Regions from separate parts of the Homo sapiens genome. Here region 1 is linked to region 2. Evidence: fine-mapped expression QTL. Tissue or cell type: lung. Region 2 holds a variant in brackets; the other region holds the start of a gene. All regions are shown on one strand. Distances are from middle to middle. Region 1 holds the start of WSCD1 (WSC domain containing 1). Region 2 overlaps WSCD1 (WSC domain containing 1).

What was found.
Region 1: it holds the start of WSCD1, and the variant in region 2 is fine-mapped to the expression of WSCD1 in lung (TOPMed, PIP above 0.99). The same link has a PIP of 0.9 or more in atrial appendage, left ventricle and skeletal muscle.

What each region holds. Positions count from the first base shown.
Region 1 is chr17:6,065,200-6,073,522 of GRCh38, forward strand. WSCD1 (WSC domain containing 1) reads left to right here and starts at 5,180. Exons shown (of 9, transcript NM_015253.2): 1 at 5,180-5,453. RefSeq lists an enhancer at 4,416-5,247.
Region 2 is chr17:6,094,293-6,102,615 of GRCh38, forward strand. WSCD1 (WSC domain containing 1) reads left to right here. Exons shown (of 9, transcript NM_015253.2): 5 at 810-931. Among named protein-coding and RNA genes, the nearest start is that of WSCD1, 28 kb to the left of the region's middle. RefSeq lists enhancers at 1,636-2,536, 2,537-3,435, 4,069-4,836. The variant C/G (reference allele first, on the strand shown) is at 4,306.

The DNA.
Region 1 (8,323 bases), 29 kb before region 2:
CAGATCTGCCTGCATGGAGCAGGCATCGAATACTTCTCAGCACTATGCGGGGAAAAAGCAAAGCAAAGAAAGAAGAAACTGCATCTCCACTTTGGAGATGTTGCCAAAGTTTCTCTCCATCTCTGAATGATGCTTTTTCAGATGAGGCAGTGTCCAGAGGAGCAAAAGGCAACCTTCACAGGTGAGACAGTCAAGCCCGTGTCACCTTGTGGGCCAACATCTTGGTGGAGCATACAGCCAAGCTGCATGGGTAAAGGAGATTACTGAGGTGCCTCTGGGTGTCGATGGAGCACCTGCTTCCTCATCCCACCACGGTCCCTGGCAGGGGCACGCGGTGCAGTGAGCCATCCGCACTCATCCTCTGGGTCTCCCTGGTGGCCAGTAGAATCCAATGGACTGGATACAGGGATCAGTCTGTGACCAGAGCAAGGGGAAGCAGCCTCTTGAATTCTTGGGAAGAAACATGACGACTGTGGGAAGCCTTCTTGGGTTTATTAAAAATATGTCATGCTAGGCACATCATGTTTTTAAAAACACAATTATTTATTTAATAAATATTTAGTAAGTATGCCTATGTACCAAGAATTCAACTTGGCACCAAGGATAAAGTTCTGAATGTGATAGTAAGTTCCCGGGCCATATTAGAGCTTAAATTCTAGCAGTGGGGGCTGTGAGGGTTGGGAAGGAGACAACAGATCATAAACCAACAAACACACAAAGAGATGATAGGGCAATGTTCCATGAAGACTGGAAACTGGACAGTGAGGTGGATGCTTTAGCCAGAATGACAGGGCAGGCTCTGGGGCGGTGGCATGTGGAGGAAGAGAACGTATCACAAGCTTGGTGGCTCAGTAGAACATTGCACATGTGGCATTTCTGGATTTTAGCAAAGCTTTGGGGAAAACCCCTTCTTGTAATATTTACTAAAATGTGTTATGTGCGTATTCCATGGCAAATGTTGTTTTGCTTCACACTCAACAGACATTTTATTTGGTCCTTACAAGCACTCCCATAAAGGAGGCATTTTCTCTGATTTGCAGATGACAGTGTTGAGGCCCAGAGAGATTGTGACTTGGTCAAGGCGAGAGAGATATGAGCCCCACGCCCGGCCCTCACCCCCACGTGGGCTTGTCACCCCCATGCCTATGACTAGTCAGGCTGCCTTTGTCAACATGACATAGAAGTGTAGGATGGCTGATGACTCATAACTGGTTGAATGACCATTTCCACGGCTGATGATGACTAGATGACCACCGTGAAGGGAGCTCATCATAGTGGTGGCTCAAGCGTGGTCCACAGCCCTGCCTTGTCCACTGGTGCCAGTGGCCTGAATGGGGGTTCAGTGGCTAGTCGGGGTTCAGTGGCCAGTCACAGTTCAGCCTCCTCTCCAACCACCTCTGACCTTGCACCAGCTAGTGCAAAGTCACTGGCAGTTTCTGTGACAGCCTGTGTGTTTCACACTTCCCTGCCTTTGCAAAGGATGCCCCCCACCCTTGTCTGGAATGGCCCCTGCACCTGGTGACCCAGATGATGCCCACTTCTCCTCTAAAAGCCAGCTTACATGTCACCTCCTCCAGGAAGCCTTCCCTGAATTCCTCCACACTGAGGTTGCGAGTCATTTAGGTTCCAATGCTCGCTCTATCTATCTCTCTATCTATCTCTCTATCTATCTATCTATCTATCTATCATCACAGCTAGTTGCCATCCCAGCAGCCATCTACTAACATAGAAACAATTTTGATCAAGTGGGGATGCGCTCTGAGATGACTGGCCTATCCCCAGAGGATGAATTATAATTAGCCAAACCCATTCCTCCTTGGCCAGGTATTGGCTGAGGGGTACTCACAGGGTTCACTTCTGGCCAATGGGCCTTGCCAGAAGGAGGATCTGGCAAAAGTTTCCTTATCCAGTGAAAAAAGAAACTTGTGGGAAGAAGTGTCCCTTTCTTTCTTGCCTTAGGGTATTGTCATTTGGGGAAGTCACGAACAGCGCTTCAGTTGTCATTTTGCAGTCATGAGGGGGCGGTCCAGGGAGCACAGAGAGGCCACCACAGATTCTGACATCATTGAGTGACTGAATCACCCAACCTTGGAACTGCCTACCTCCAGGCGTCTTGCTGTCTGAGATCATAAACCCTTTGCTTGACACCACTTTTACTTTGCTATTTGTTACTTGAGGCTGCAGGCATCCTGACTGATACAGCAGAGCTCTCTCTTTGTGGTATGTTTTCACTTTGGTCTGTTTTCTCGTCCAGTTCTTCACACTGGAAACTCCTGCAGGGGACCGGTTCTTTTTTATCAAAGACTCTCCAGTGTTCAACACAAAATCTAACACACAATGGGTGCCTTGCTTAGTAAATACATGAAAAGATGGGTGGCTGGAAGGAAGGAAGAATAAGCTATCAGATGACGTGAAGTAAGGAGGTGATGTAAATACCTAGGATCCAATAGTTGAGGTCTGCAAAGAGAGGAGCGGATGACTCAAGAGCGAAACACAGAGAGATGGGATTGATGTGACATCAGACCTGTCTGATTCTTAGTCCCAGACTCCTGGGGGGTGGGGGGATACATTTCTCAGCAGTAAATGGACATATGATGGCAGCATTGTGGGACCAATTGCTTTTGGGACAGGGATGGTATACAAGTTACTATGAAACAGTCCCAACTATGTGGAGAGAAGAGCTGAGGGACAAGGAGTTGGACTGTGATTAGGAGTGACTCTGTTATCAGTCCTCCCTATCACTTCTTACTGGTCACCATCACTAGAAAGAAGGGCTTTGTCCTGACACTGAAATACTCCTGGCCGTGTTGACTCCCAAGCCCTTCTCAATTACTTCCTGGGTTCTTTCATGCGCCTCCTTCCTCAACCTCCCTCCCTAGAGTCAGTAGTTGACTCTAGCTTCTACCCACACAGGGGCTGTATGGTGTTCCCCTGGTGGGGTGCTTTGCAGGGCAGGTGCAGCGTGACATCGAGCACAGATGGCATGGATACCCAGCAGCCTTTTGCTTTTTCTTCTTGAGTCACCTCCTTCCCTGGTGGCAGCCACATCAACTCTTCTGCTTGATTATTCTGTACCAAGTGTCTGCTGCTGCAGATGGACACTTCTGAATAGCAGCTGCCGGGAAATGTCTGGCTTCCCAGAGGAGCTGGGCTTGAATTCCCCTGGGCTCAACTGGCTGTGAGCCTTTTGTGATCACCCACCTGAAAGCCTCATCTGTCAAATGGGCACATGAAGGCATCTATAGACTTATCAGTTTTAAGTGGGACAATGGGTACGAGAGGGCCAGGGCTGGCTTCATGGGTATGAGATCTGTGAAAGGCTCTGAATTCTGTGCTCAGAAGGGACCCGTACTGGTTTAATATCCTCCTTTTATCTCTCGAAATTCTTGATAGTGTTTTAAAAGGGGGCTCCATTTTTATTTTAGGCCCTTCAAATTATGTAGCTGGTCATGGAGAGGGCTTTGCAAACCAAACAGCATTGCGAGACTGCACAGTGGGTTGCTGTTATAAATCGTAACGACACACACATTCACATTCTGTAAAGGATATATATGTGAAGGGGGCTTTTCTGCAAGGTTGGGACTCTGAGGCAGCACAGAATTCGTCTCTCACTTACTGTATCCTCTTCCTGGGCTTAAGGATATTAAATCCAGGTGCCCCAAGACCTTCAGAGCATTCTGCCTTCATGCGGATGGTGCAGACTCTGTTCTAATTCTGCACTTGGCCAGACATAGCTATGCAAACTGCAGCGAGTCTCTTCCCGCTCTGGGCGCCACCTGACTGACCCGCGTAAGGAGGGACTGTGACTGGTCCCCAGGCAAACGCTTTCCCTGCCACCTGCACCTGTTGCAAGCCAGCTCCTCGGAGCCAGGCCAAGCAGCTCTGCCCCTAGCGGGAGTCGGAGGCATGAAACTCCCTTTTAGGAAGACGGAGTAAGAGGCACCACCACCTGCTCCTGCTGCCTCTGCTGTCCTCAGCTTCTGGGAGCATCTTAGCAGCCAGCTCCGGGTGAGGACAGGGTCCACCGGTGCACATGGCAGAGCAGGGCAGATGCTGTGACTTGGCGGCTTTGGGGGAACAGGGTGGGGCTCCTCCCTGGGAAAAATCTTTAGGTTTGGATCCAGCCTTTATTTAAAGAGGGGGATTGTGTATAGACTTGTGTGACTGTTCAGCCTCTTTCCACCTCGGTGCGTGTGTGTGTGTGTGTGTGTGTGTGTGTGTGTGTGTGTGAGAGAGAGAGAGAGAGAGAGAGCCTGTGGGTCAATGCCCAGTATGCCCCTCTGAGAGTGTGTCTGTTAGTAGACACCAGTGTGTGACATTGCTTCTGTGGGCAACTATGTCAAGGCGTGGGTTTGTCACTGTGTGCGGTGTGGAGCAGTATGATAAGCCGGCGGCCGACCCCCGAGTGTGTAGACGCGGGAGCTGGTGTCAGGGTATTTGTAGGGCTGCAATTCTGTGTAGGTCTGTCTCAGATTGTGTGAGAGTGTCTGTGTTCCAGCAGGTGCTTGTTTCTGAGTGTGAATGTGTGTGAAGCTGTGACCGTCTGTCTCTAGCTCTGCATGGGACGGTGATCCGGTGTGTGTGTGTGTGTGTGTGTGTGTGCGTGCGTGTGTGGTGTGTGTGTGTATTAGAGTGCACTCTAAACTGTGTGGCTGTGTGTGTACGTGTGCGTGCCTGTCACAGTGGCCCAGTCTGCTTCTGGGTGAGTGGGGCAGAGCCCAGAGAGTGTGTGTGTGAGTGTGGGTGTCGGTGTCTCTGGGAAGCAGTGATTCGGGATGTGTGTGTCAGGCAGTGTGCGGCTGTCGCTGTGAGTCTGCATGGGAGAGTGGCGGCGTGCTCTCCTCTGCGCGGCAGTGCCCCGTGTGTTTGTGGGTCTGTGTCTGGGTGTGAGCGTCATGGTGCGTGTGTTAGAGCCCGTGGGGCCCCGGTGAAAGGCTGTGGCTCTGGGTGACTGGTGTGTGTGTGTGTGTGTGTGTGTATCAGAGTGGGTGGCGGCGTCTCTGCTCGGCAGTGGCGCGTGTGGCCCGCCCCGCGCGCGTGTTCTCGCGGGCCGGGGCAGGGCGTGGGCCCCCTCCGGCGGAGCCGCGACCCCTCCCCCGGGCGGCGGGAGGTGCGCACCGGCGCCTCTAGGACCCGGCGGCGGCCGGCCGCTGTCCCCGGGCCGCGCGAGTGAGCATGTGCAGAGCCCGGCGCCCGCTCGCCCGCCCGCTGCCCGCCCCGGCTCCGCGCCCGCCCGCCCGCCCCGCCGTTCAGCCCGGACGCCAGCAGCCCCGGGGAGCCAGGCGGCGGCGCCCTGTGCCCGGGCGCGTGGGTCCGCTTGCCGCGGGCGGCCGGAGACGTGCGGGCGCCGGGGCTTCTGGGCTCCGGGCACTGCGGGGGGCTGCGGGCTCGGCGCCCGGGGAAGGCGGGCCATGGGCGCGGGTGCGGGCGCCCCAGCCGGCCGCGATCGCGGGGTGAGTCCTGTCTCTCGGCGCTCCAGCCGGACCCCCGCGCGGGCTGCGAGCAGGGTGTTCCCCTTGCCGCGGGCAAACAAGTTTGTGCAGACGCGGTTGGGAGCGCGGCGGGGCTGCACCTGCTCCGGCTGCAGGGCGGGCTTGCCGGGGGCACCTTCCCGGGGGCCCGGGGCGGCTCGGCCGGGGCAGGGGAGAGTGAGCGGGTGCGTGCAGGGGTTGTGGGGGGGCGGGGGCGGCGCTCGGCGCGGCCGGGATGGGGTGGGGGTGCGCGAGGCGCCGCACGAGCCGCGTCCCCCTCCGGAGTCCTGAGAGCCCGTCCGTCACCCGGGAGGGCGCTGCGGTTGGTCCCGGGGAGGGGGCGAGGGCAGGGTGTGGGGTGCGCACAGCTTCCCTCCTAGGCGGCGACGTTTACCCAGAAGCAGCTCCCTCTCGTTCCGCTACCAAGAGAGGCTTCCGGTCAGCGGAGGGTTTGCTCCGTCTCTTGGTGAACTTGAACAGAGGCAGAGGCAAAAGCAAAACGTATGTATTTTGTCCAGAAAATTACCTAGTGTAGAGCTTTGCGTCTTCGTAGGTGTGGACGGAGACTCACGACTGAAGGTTGCTAAATTGCGTTTTTCTTGGCTACTCAGGAGCGTACGTACCTGGCTGGGTCCCCTGCCTCCGGGTAACCTCGCTGGTGGTTTTCCTGAGCATTTGTGCGCCTGGGATGATGCCTGCTCTGCTGATCGGGAATGCGGGTGGGGAAGGGGACCGCTCTTCCTTCCGCTGAGCAGTGGGAAGGCTCATATAGGAGTTCTAGCCTCATAGCCCTGCACTGGGATCCAGCTGCTCCCCACACTGGCCCTGCCCCTGCAGCTCCCAAGATGGACAGATGCAGGACTCCGCTGTACTTTTCTAACATGAGATACCCGCATCCCTCTTGTTGCTGGAACAGCATGCTTAGGTTTATGGAGGCACTTGGTTTATCCCACTTTGGCATCAGGAGTGGGGGCCTTTCTTTTTTCCTCTGATTTGCCTAGGTTGTCAGGCACAGAAAGTGAGGGTGGTGGGGAGTGAAAGTTACAGGAGATATAAAGCTGGCTTGCCCTGCGCTGTTTGCAATCACCCACTCCTGGTGGCTGCAGGTGCTGGGGAGAGAGCTAGGGGAGGTTTCCTTGGGCTATGGGAGAATGAGGTTTGTCTCTCTCAATCATGCCCCCACCCCCACACACTTAGATTGGCCCTCAGGAGATCCTCCGGGAAGGGGCCTCAACCGGCTGCCAGAGCTCAGGGTTTCTAGGAGGAAGAGCAGGAGCTCTCCCAGGCATGGGATCTGAAGGAGGCTTGGCGGTGGTTGGGCTGGTGGCTGAGCCTGACTGCCTCATCTTCTCCGCCAGAAGGCTCTCACCTGTGGCTGCATCCTCCAGGCCTCAGCAGGGCCATTTCCACAGCTCCTCTGTAAAAATGCCTTCTTCTGGGGTGAGGGGATCCCTCTCTTCAGTGGGCATTGTGCCCTATGGGGTACTGCCCTGTGGCCTGTGGCATGTCTGGTTGGAAGTGAAGAGAAGCTGGGATAAGGCAGAAGGCCAGACTCCTGTCTCTTCCTCCTGTCTTCCTAACCGAGCAGAAGTGGATATTCAGTGCCACTAGTGGGTCTGCTGCTGAAGCTTGAGCCTCCAACCTGATCAGTTTGGCCAGAGCACTGGGGAATGAGTCACAGAGCTGGTTCCTTATGGCATCAGCCTGAGCAGGCGACTCAGAGCCTCTGAATCCAGAGCCTCCAGGCCCTGATGGAACCCCTCCGAGCAGGGCCTCTAGGGAAGTGGTGTTTCTCATTATAGAAGCTCCAAGCTTGTACTCCCATCCAGCTCAGACCCCCATCAGCCTTGGTGAGACCAGCTCCCTGACTCTTTCTCTGGAGGTACAATGAGGTCAAGGCCAAGGACTTTGGGGCAGCTCAGTGTTTAGACCTTCAGGGCCTTAGGCCTTAAAATGCAGGTGATAATCATATACACTAGCAGGGCCAGAGCTGGGCCCTAACATCCAGGGCTGCTCATCTGGGGAATGAGGGAATGAATGTGGCTTTCCGCTCACCACCTTCTCCCTGGGCCTCCTGGTCTGGCCTTCACATTCTTCCTTTAATCTCTCCTCATCATGGCTTTGACAATCGTGCTGACATACGGCCTGAAAAATTATCGGAAGTGTGCCACTTGGAGAATGTGGTCAGGGAGGAACTCTGCATATGCCCTGCCTCCTGGTGTGGATGTGAGAAGTGGATGGAAGAATGGGCTGGATTCATTTCATCAGCTATGAAATACAGTGCACCTGCTGGTAGCTGTTAAGGCCCCTCCCCTTCACTTCGCTTCCCTTCCTTTGCTGCCGGAAGCCCCTGGAGATGTGAGCTCCCTTCTAGAGAGTGGCTCCCTTGACATGAGGGGGTCGAGAGTATTCTGAGGACAAGGATGTGCAGCAGGCTGTCTTGGCCTCTCTCCCATAGCCCGAGTGCCCAGTGGCAGCATCAAGTTGGGCAGGTCTGACTTTGGTTGGGCACTCCACTCACTTGTCCACCTGTATCCAACTCACTCCGTGGGGTTTCAACACCTGTTTACCTTCCAGATTCTGGGATGGGCTTGAGACGACCCTTAAGCTTTCAGCACCAGGTGGAAGAAACACATGAATAAGTAAACAAAATAAGATTCTATAAAAGAGATAGCCCAGGCCAGGCGTGGTGGCTCACACCTGTAATTCTGGTGTTTTGGAAGCCAAGGTGGGCAGATCACCTGAGTCCAGGAGTTTGAGACCAGCCTGGCAAACATGGCAAAACCCCATCTCTACTAAAAATACAAAAATTAGCTGGGCATGGTGGTGTGTGCCTGTAATCCCAGCTACTA
Region 2 (8,323 bases):
GGAGTTCCTAGAAATTGAGTGGGAGTTCAAGATCAGAGAGAGGCAAACCTTGCAAAGAGGCAAAGCAGTGGTATGACTCCAACGGCACAGCAAGAACAAACATGGCTGGGTTTCAGATTTCCATGTCTGCTTTTCTTTTAATGCATCTTCCGGTAGGACATTGAATTTTTCACAATATCAGCCTCTCAGGTCACCTACCATGGGAGGAATCTGGCACCTAGTAAAAGCACCATCCAAATTTGTTGAAGGAAGGAAGAAAGAAGGAAGGAAGGAAGGAAAAGGAAGGAGAAGGAAGGGAGGAAGGAAGGAAGGAAGGAGAAGGAAGGAAGGAAGGTAGGCAGGCCGGCAGGAAGGCTGGCATTATGGAGAACTGGCAGAAGCAAGAGAGGGAAGGAAGGAAGGAAGGAAGGGAGAGGGAAGGAAGGAAGAAAGGGAGGGAGGGAAGGAGGGAGGGAGGGAATGGAGAACTGGCAGAAGCAAGAGAAGGAAGGAAGGAAGGGAGGAAGGGAGGGAGGAAGGGAGGAAGGAATGACTTATGGAGAACTGGCAGAAGCAAGAGCTGAGCGCTGCAGTTTCAGCCAAGTGGTCCCTTGTAGATGACCCTGGACGGTCAAGGTGCTGATGCCTGGTTTCTCTCAGAAGCTCAGCATGACTATGTCCCATGCAGGGCCGTTTTCCCTCCCTGATTTGAACTCGCCTCGTAAGTTTATTTATACCTGTCTCAGGACCTAAAGCCAGCATTTTCCCTGGTGACAGGCACCAACAACTGGACACCATCTCTTACCAGAAACCCCTCTCTTTTCCCCCAGGGCGGACCGCCACCTACCGCGGATGCTTCCGACTGCCAGAGAACATCACACATGCCTTCCCCAGCTCCCTGATACAGGCCAATGTGACCGTGGGGACTTGCTCGGGCTTTTGTTCCCAGAAAGTAAGACCAAGTGATCATTTCACAACCCTTTCCTTTAAGTGTGTGTGGTGGTCCTGAGAGAGGGGGGCACATGTGCTGGGCTGCGGGTGTCCCCTCTGGCAGTCCAGATGGGAGCAGAGGAAGGGGGCATGGATGGGAGGCAGGCACCAGGTACCACAGAGGGAGCCGGCAGGGAGCCCTTCGCCTCTGTCCACCATGTGAGGCTGGGTGGGGAATTGTCAGCAAGGCTTGTAAAGCCGAAAGGAGAGTGCCTTTCTGGATGCGAACTCTTGCCACAAGTGTCAGATGTTAAATTGACTTGGTTTGGAAGCCAGAAGATGCTGGCTCGGGACTTGGGGATAGCTGATGGATTTTCTGTTATTGGTGCTGACGGTGTTGGGCCGTGAATCTGATGACAGGGGCTGGAGCCACACTTGCATCTTTGGTTTAGCCTGGGCTGAGGAGTAGAGCGTGACCCCATGGAGGGGCAGGGCTAGGCACCAAAGGCCACTGACCCCGCATTGCATGGTAGCTCTGGGGTGGGGAAAGTTGGTCAAGGCCAGAGGTGGCTTGCAAAAAGCAGGGCCTGGAGTGTGTGAAGCAAGGCTGGGGGAGACCCAGCAGACTGTGTCCAAAGAACATTGAGATCTCGGGCTGGAGTCAGGCAGACTCCAGATTGGGGTGGATGCTGTGGCTCTAGAAATGGCCCTTGGTGGCAGTAGGCTTGGGGCTGGGGCTGTTTCACATGCGCTGGGATTGCTGTACCCTCAATGTGGCTTTGATACTTGGCAATGTAATAGAACAGGGCTAAGGTGAGAGGATGGCCTTGGCCAGGATGATGATGACGATTATGACAATCAACAGAAGCTGCCATTCGTTGATCGCTCATTCCATGCCAGGTACTGTTCCAAGCGCTTTATGGGTTAACTCATTTAATCCTCCTAACAACCCTACAGCTAGGTGCTGTGATTATCTGCATTTTCCAGGTGAGGAAACTGAGGCAGAGGGTTTGAGCCGTGTGCCTGAGGTCACACAGCCAGTAAGTGGTGGGGTCAGGGTTTGAACTCAGGTAGCTCCATAGTCTGCTGTGGGTTGAAGGGTGCAGGGGTGGACTTCAATGACAGCAGATGTGATCGGATCTGCAGGAGCAGCACAGCCATCCTCTGCTGCACCCCCCCACTCCCGCTCTCCCTGCTTCATGTGTTCCTCCGCACTCTGGGGACACCTCCCTTGGAGGGGGCTGGAGAACAAGGGGGCTGGACACCTCCCTTGGAGGGGGCTGGAGGGGGCTTTCATATGTGCTTTCTTCTTGTCCAAGTGCATCCTTTGAAGTGGCTCTCCTGCGTCACCAGCATTTCCGAAGCCACAGCCAAGGATGTCTTGGGCATCAGGGCACCCACGACACAATTAAATGAGCCAAAAAGGCAGTTTGTTGATTTGCGGACATCTGGCCTGGGGACCTCCTCATCCCTTCTCCTCCTCATGGGAGCAGAGCGATGGGTAGAGGCAGCAAGGATGCGCGCTCAGCTGCCGGCCCTGCTGGTGCTCTCAGGAGAATGAGCCACCCTCCTAGGGCTTCCCTCACACCTGCAGCTCAGAGCAGTTCCCTTGAGAGGCCCTCTGGTTGGAATCAAAGGAACTCTGTGGTCCAGACCAGGCTGGAGGCAGGCCTGCCTTGAGCAACCAGCTTGGATAGTCCTGCTGTGTGCTGGGCATGGCACTAGGAGCCTTCCTGCGGGGGGTTATCTGCTTTAATCCTCCCAGTAGCTCCCAATGGGGGATACTCAGATGCCTGCTTGCTGCGAGAGGCTGGGCAGGTGTGCAGAGCTGAGAGCCCTCAAACACAGGCACAGAGTGGCCGGCTTTGCAGCTCCTGCTCCTGATGCCACACACAGCCACACACTGGCACAGAGCGGCCGGCTTTGCAGCCCTTGCTCCTGACGCCACACACAGCCCGTGGTTTTACACACTGCTGCCATTCGGCGTTATGGAAGGGGGAAGAGACGGAGAAGATGAGGAGGAAGAGAAGGGAAAGAAAGGGGTGGCCATTGTGGCCATGAGCCATTAGTGTTTCGGACTAGTTTTAAATAGGAACATGCTTACTTGGAGCATAATGAAGACGCCAAAGGGCATAGCAGGGAAGCCTTCCTCTCACTCCATGCATTTCCTTGCCTGGATTGTCCTGGCTTCTCATGTCTACTTCCAGAGAGACTGAATATTCAAGCAACTGCATCCTTGCCCATTCTCTAACAAGCCCCGCAGCCGGGCAGGAGCTGCACCCGCCCTTCTGCACTGAACTCTTCACCGGACAGCCTGTCTCGGAGATTGTCTCACGTCGCGACACAAAGTGCTTTCTCATTCTTTTTTACCATTGCACGGAGGTCCTATAATTTATTTAACCAGTTTAGCATTTCGCCTATTTCCAGCCTTCACAAACGATGCGGCAGTGACTACCTGTGTATGTACGTAGATCACTTTGTGTGAGTGAATCTGTAAGAAAAATATTCCTTGGAGATGCTGGGTCAAAGACTGAGTGTCTTTATCATTTTGGTAAACTTTGTCAGGTTGTCCTTGGCGAGGATTGTATTCATTTTATACCCCGATCAGTGATGTGTGAGGGGGAGGCAAGGCACCCTCGTAACCCTTATTTTGTGTGTGTTGGGGGGCTCAAAGCAGCATTTTAGGCAGATGCCTCAGTTTTCTGGGGGTCCTCCCTTTGTGTACCTCATTAGGGCCCAGAGAGTTCTTTCTTTTTTTTTTTTTTTTGAGACAGTGTTCCGCTCTGATGCCCAGGTTGGAGTGCAGTGGTGTGATCATAGCTCACTGTAGCCTCTGGCTCCTGGGCTCAAGTGATCCTCCCACCTTGGCCTCCTGAGTAGCTGTGACTACAGGCACACACTACCATGCCCAGCTAATTTTTTTGTGTATTTTTTGCAGAGACAGGGGGGCGGGGTGGGGGGGGTCTCACCAAGTTGCCCAGACTGGTCTTGAACTCCTGGGCTCAAGCAATCTGCCCTCCTTGGCCTCCCAAAGTGCTGGGATTACAAGCATGAGCCACTGTGCCCGGCTGGTCCAGAGAGTTTGTATTTGTGATTACAGACAAGAATTTAAAGGCTTATAACTCTTCAACTTGTATTTTCAGCCTTCCTTCATATTTACTGGCATAAATCCAGATTGCTGCAGTTTCACACTGGAGCATGTGCCAGAAGATACACGCAGGCTCTTGGTGTCTTGTGCTATCACACATTAGCACCTTGTCCATCTCCCCTCACAACGCATTTCAAGGACAAGTTCCCTTCTCTGCTATGGCCGGAGCAGTCGTGAATTGTTTGGGTCAGAACTACATGGAAAGGGCATCCAGGTTTCTCAGAAACAGCCTCTGTCCTCAGCACTCA[C/G]AACACTGGAGCCAGTGCTGACACCTGATCCTTATCCGGGCTGCCTCTGCGTGGTCAGATGGGACTGGGAGGGTGGTGTTTCCTGAGTTCCATTGTTTAGGGCTGCAACATTTGCAGCTGTGAGGAACAGAGTCATCATTTCCAGCTTTAAAGTTTAAAGTGGGTATTGGCAGCGCATATTTAGTGGGACTTGGCAAAACGCAAATGCTGAGACGGTGGGCACAGCCAGGGGCAGGTGACTCTCACTGGTGGCAGAGTAAGGGCAGTGCCTGAAGAAGGTGAAGAAGGCTTGGAAGGAGGCTGAGAAAGGAAGATGGTTGCAACTTTTGGGAAGGGTTGGAACTGGAGGATGTGGGGCAGTGTTGGCAGGTGGCTGAGGGGATTAAGGAGTGTGTTCCAAGAAGAGGCAACTGCTGAGCAGGAACCAGGTGGCAGGAAAGCAGCCCAGGTGGCCCAGCGTGCAGGGTTACTTGGGGGGCTGTGAAAGGTCAGGGGGTACAAATTGCAGAGGGCTTTGTGATACAAGAGTTATTAAGAAGTTATTTTAGGCAGAAAGTAAGGTTCTGGGTGGAAATTTTCCTGTAATAAGAAACAACCCCCAAACCATCTCTTTTCTAACAGAAAAGGCGGCTTAAAGGGCCAGGCACGGTGGCTCATGCCTGTAATCCCTGCACTTTGGGAGGCTGAGGTGGGCGGATCATGAGTTCAAGAGATTGTGACCATCCTGGCCAACATGGTGAAACACTGTCTCTACTAAAAATACAAAAATTAGCCAGGTGTGGTGGCGCCTGCCTGTAGGCCTAGCTACTCAGGAGACTGAGGGAGGAGAATCGCTTGAACCCAGGAGGCAGAGGTTGCAGTGAGCCGAGATCACACCACCGCGCTCCAGCCTGGGCGACAGAGCAAGACTCTGTCTCAAAAACAAAAAAAAAAAGAGAGCAACTGGGTTCACTCAATATGGTGATTCCCACTGTCTTTTCCTTGTTACCAGGTGTACCGAGTGTCATGGCCACCTCCAGATAACACCATGTGTTCAGAACATCATGATGACCTGCATTTGCATATTAAAGGACTAAGGTGGGAGGGCCAGGTTTTTCAAGGGCTACGTAAATGACACACCTGGTCAAACCAATCCCCTGGGCCTTATGGAACGCAGACACCGCTTCCTCCAGCATCCCAATATAAGCAGCCACTTTTCCGCTGCACACGGGGTTTTCTCTTTGTTCAAATCCCCCCTCCCTCTGTCTCTGTACGGGGAGCTGTTTTCTTCTTCCTTCCTTCTTTCTTGCCTGTTAAACTTTTCACTCCTTAAAATCACCCCACATGTGTCCATGTCTAAACCGGCACGAGACCAAGAACCCTGGTGTCCCTCCAGTCATCAGAGCCATATAGCTTGAATGCCTGCCTCAAGGTTGAGACTTTTTTCAGTGGGTGGGAGGGGCTGGTATGGCTTGTGTGGCACTTTATAGCTGCAGGTAGGATGTTCTGGAGCACGGAGAGGATGAGAGCTAATAAAGAAGGGAGTAGGTCTAAGAGACACCACAGGGTTGGAATCCACAAGAGAGGATGTGGGGGCATGAAAGAAGGAGTGGGAACCCCCAGGGAGGAGGATGAGGCATGGATGGGTTTGTGGGTGAGCGGGGCAGCTGACCTGTCCAATGTGGGAGGGAAGTTCTCCTTGGATCCTTCTGGGATACAGCATTTCTCAGGGGTACCCTCAGAGATGCCTTGGCAAAGCTGCCACAGAAGTCGACCTGTGACCTGGTTCTGGAGTTAGGGATTTCAGGTAGGGCAAGAACAGTGCCCTGGATGTCATGCCTTTAAGTCAAACCGCCATCTGCCCAACGGAGCGAGCCTTTGGCTCCCAGATTGTCCATCCATTCTCGCTTGTCTCGCCCGTGGATGTGGGTGTAACTTGAACTCAAACCGTCTGTACTGTTAGCCCCTCAGCTCTGAGCTCTGCAGATGCCTGGCAGGGGTTTTGCTGGAATTCTGACTTCACTCTAGAGCAGGGGTTCACAGCCTTGGATCTGTTGGCATTTGGGGTTGGATATTACTCATGTTGGGATCTGTCTGTGCATTGTAGGATATCTAGCAGCATCCCTAGCCTCTACCCACTAGATGCCAACAGCCCATATTCCCTCAGTTGTGACACACAGTCCCCACACATTGCCGTATGTCCTCTGGAGGGTAAAATCACCCCTGGTTGAGAACCACAGCCCTGGAGAGCCACCTGAAGATGCCAGGCAGCCATGCCCAGTCATGGCCCATATCCCCGTGGGGCTGAATCCTGGGGAGCAATGGTCTCTTCCAACCATTGTGAGGATGGAGAAGCAAATTCTCCCTCTAGTATTGAGGTCTGATGGATGTGAAATTGTTTGGAAGTTGATCTGACCCAGACCTGCAGAGGCCAGAGAACTCTTTGCAGGGAATGGTATCCTCTCTTCCCTCCTGAATGTTGAGGGTGGCGAGAGAGGTGAATCTGGGGATGTCTGGCCGTATTTGCCTGCTCTGAAGTGCCAAGCACGTCCTCTCTGGAAAGGCCAGTGGTGTGGAGGCTGCCTGGCAGTCCCGGTGGCAGCTTTATCTCATCCTAATTTGGCCGAAAAACAAGCTCAAATGTCCTATGATGTGGGAATGGTTAAATTATGCCACGGCCATACAGTGGACTATAATACAACCATTGAAAATGTTTTCAAAGACTTTGATGATGGAAAATGCTCACAGTAGAATGTTAAATGGGGCAGAGCTGAGCCTGGGGGTAGGAAGCTAGGGGCTTAATTAGAGCTGGCCGGGCAGTGGGGCTGGGAGCAGCAGATGTGAGAGGTGGGGCTTGGAAACAGGAAAAGAGGAGGGGGTTCCTTGTAGTGCCCCCACCTTTGAGCACCATCTGAGGCTTATTTGTGGCCCCAGATAAAATGTCTACTGTTTTTGCTAGTTCGCGAAAATGGATTTGGGGAGATCCAAGAGTGTAGTTTGACAGAAAAAGAACATTCCAGGTGATATCTGCATCTTAATGATCTGACTCTCTGCCAGCAAGAGGGAATTGACCAATGTAATGTGTTTTTAAAGCCCAGTGAAATGATCTTGTCTAATTTCCTGTGATCGTATGGAGATGGAAAGAGACCTGCTCATTCTCAGTCCCCTTCAGGATCCTATCGGCTCCTTTGTTTCAACGCAAGGCAAGAGTGAGCAGGGGGCAGCTTCGATATTTGCATTGCTACCAATTCAGATCTGGGGTAATTAGTTTTGTCGCCTGATATTTGTGCTCAAGTAGATAGGCCATTTGTGGGGGTGCTCCGAAAGGAGGCTGATGAGCGAAATCTAACACCATCTGCAAATAGGTTACTAATGTGAGACACTCCACCGGCGATTATACCTTGTGATGTGAGGTTTGTTCTCCCAGCTGCTGTTAGTGATTCTACTGATAAAGGAATCGCAGGGAGAGGAGGAAGAAAGGTGTTGAGCTTTCTTTTTCCCCTCTTTTAGCCTCTTTTGGGCGTCTAAATTCTTTACGCATTAATCACCTGGATGTTTTCCCATTGACATTTCTTCTAAGTTTTTTTGCTTGTTTGGCCATTTAATGGTGGTGCTCATCTAGCCACCTTTCAAATGGAAAAGCATGCATTAATATGGAACCTGTTTGTTCTCAGCTGGGCAGCTGCTCTTGCAAAATCCACTTGGATTCCAATAGATTCGGTCTATCCAAGGTAGCCTTATGGTCTCCATGGGGCACCCAAGTTCATGTCTTTGCCAATGGTTGGGTCTGTAAGAGTCTGGGTTTTGTGAGCCTTGAGAATAAGAATTTTCTCTTTGACAAAATGCTGTAGTCATTCCAAGAGCTATTGGATATGCTTTGAATTGCTTATAAAAAGTCTGTGGTAAACCTGTTGATACTGTACTCTCTGCATATTTTGAAAAACACGTATTGTTTGTTTTTCTGGGGGGTTAACACATATCTATTTTAGAGAATTTGAAAATTTTCCAAGTGCAGAAATAAAAATAGAATGCACCTGTA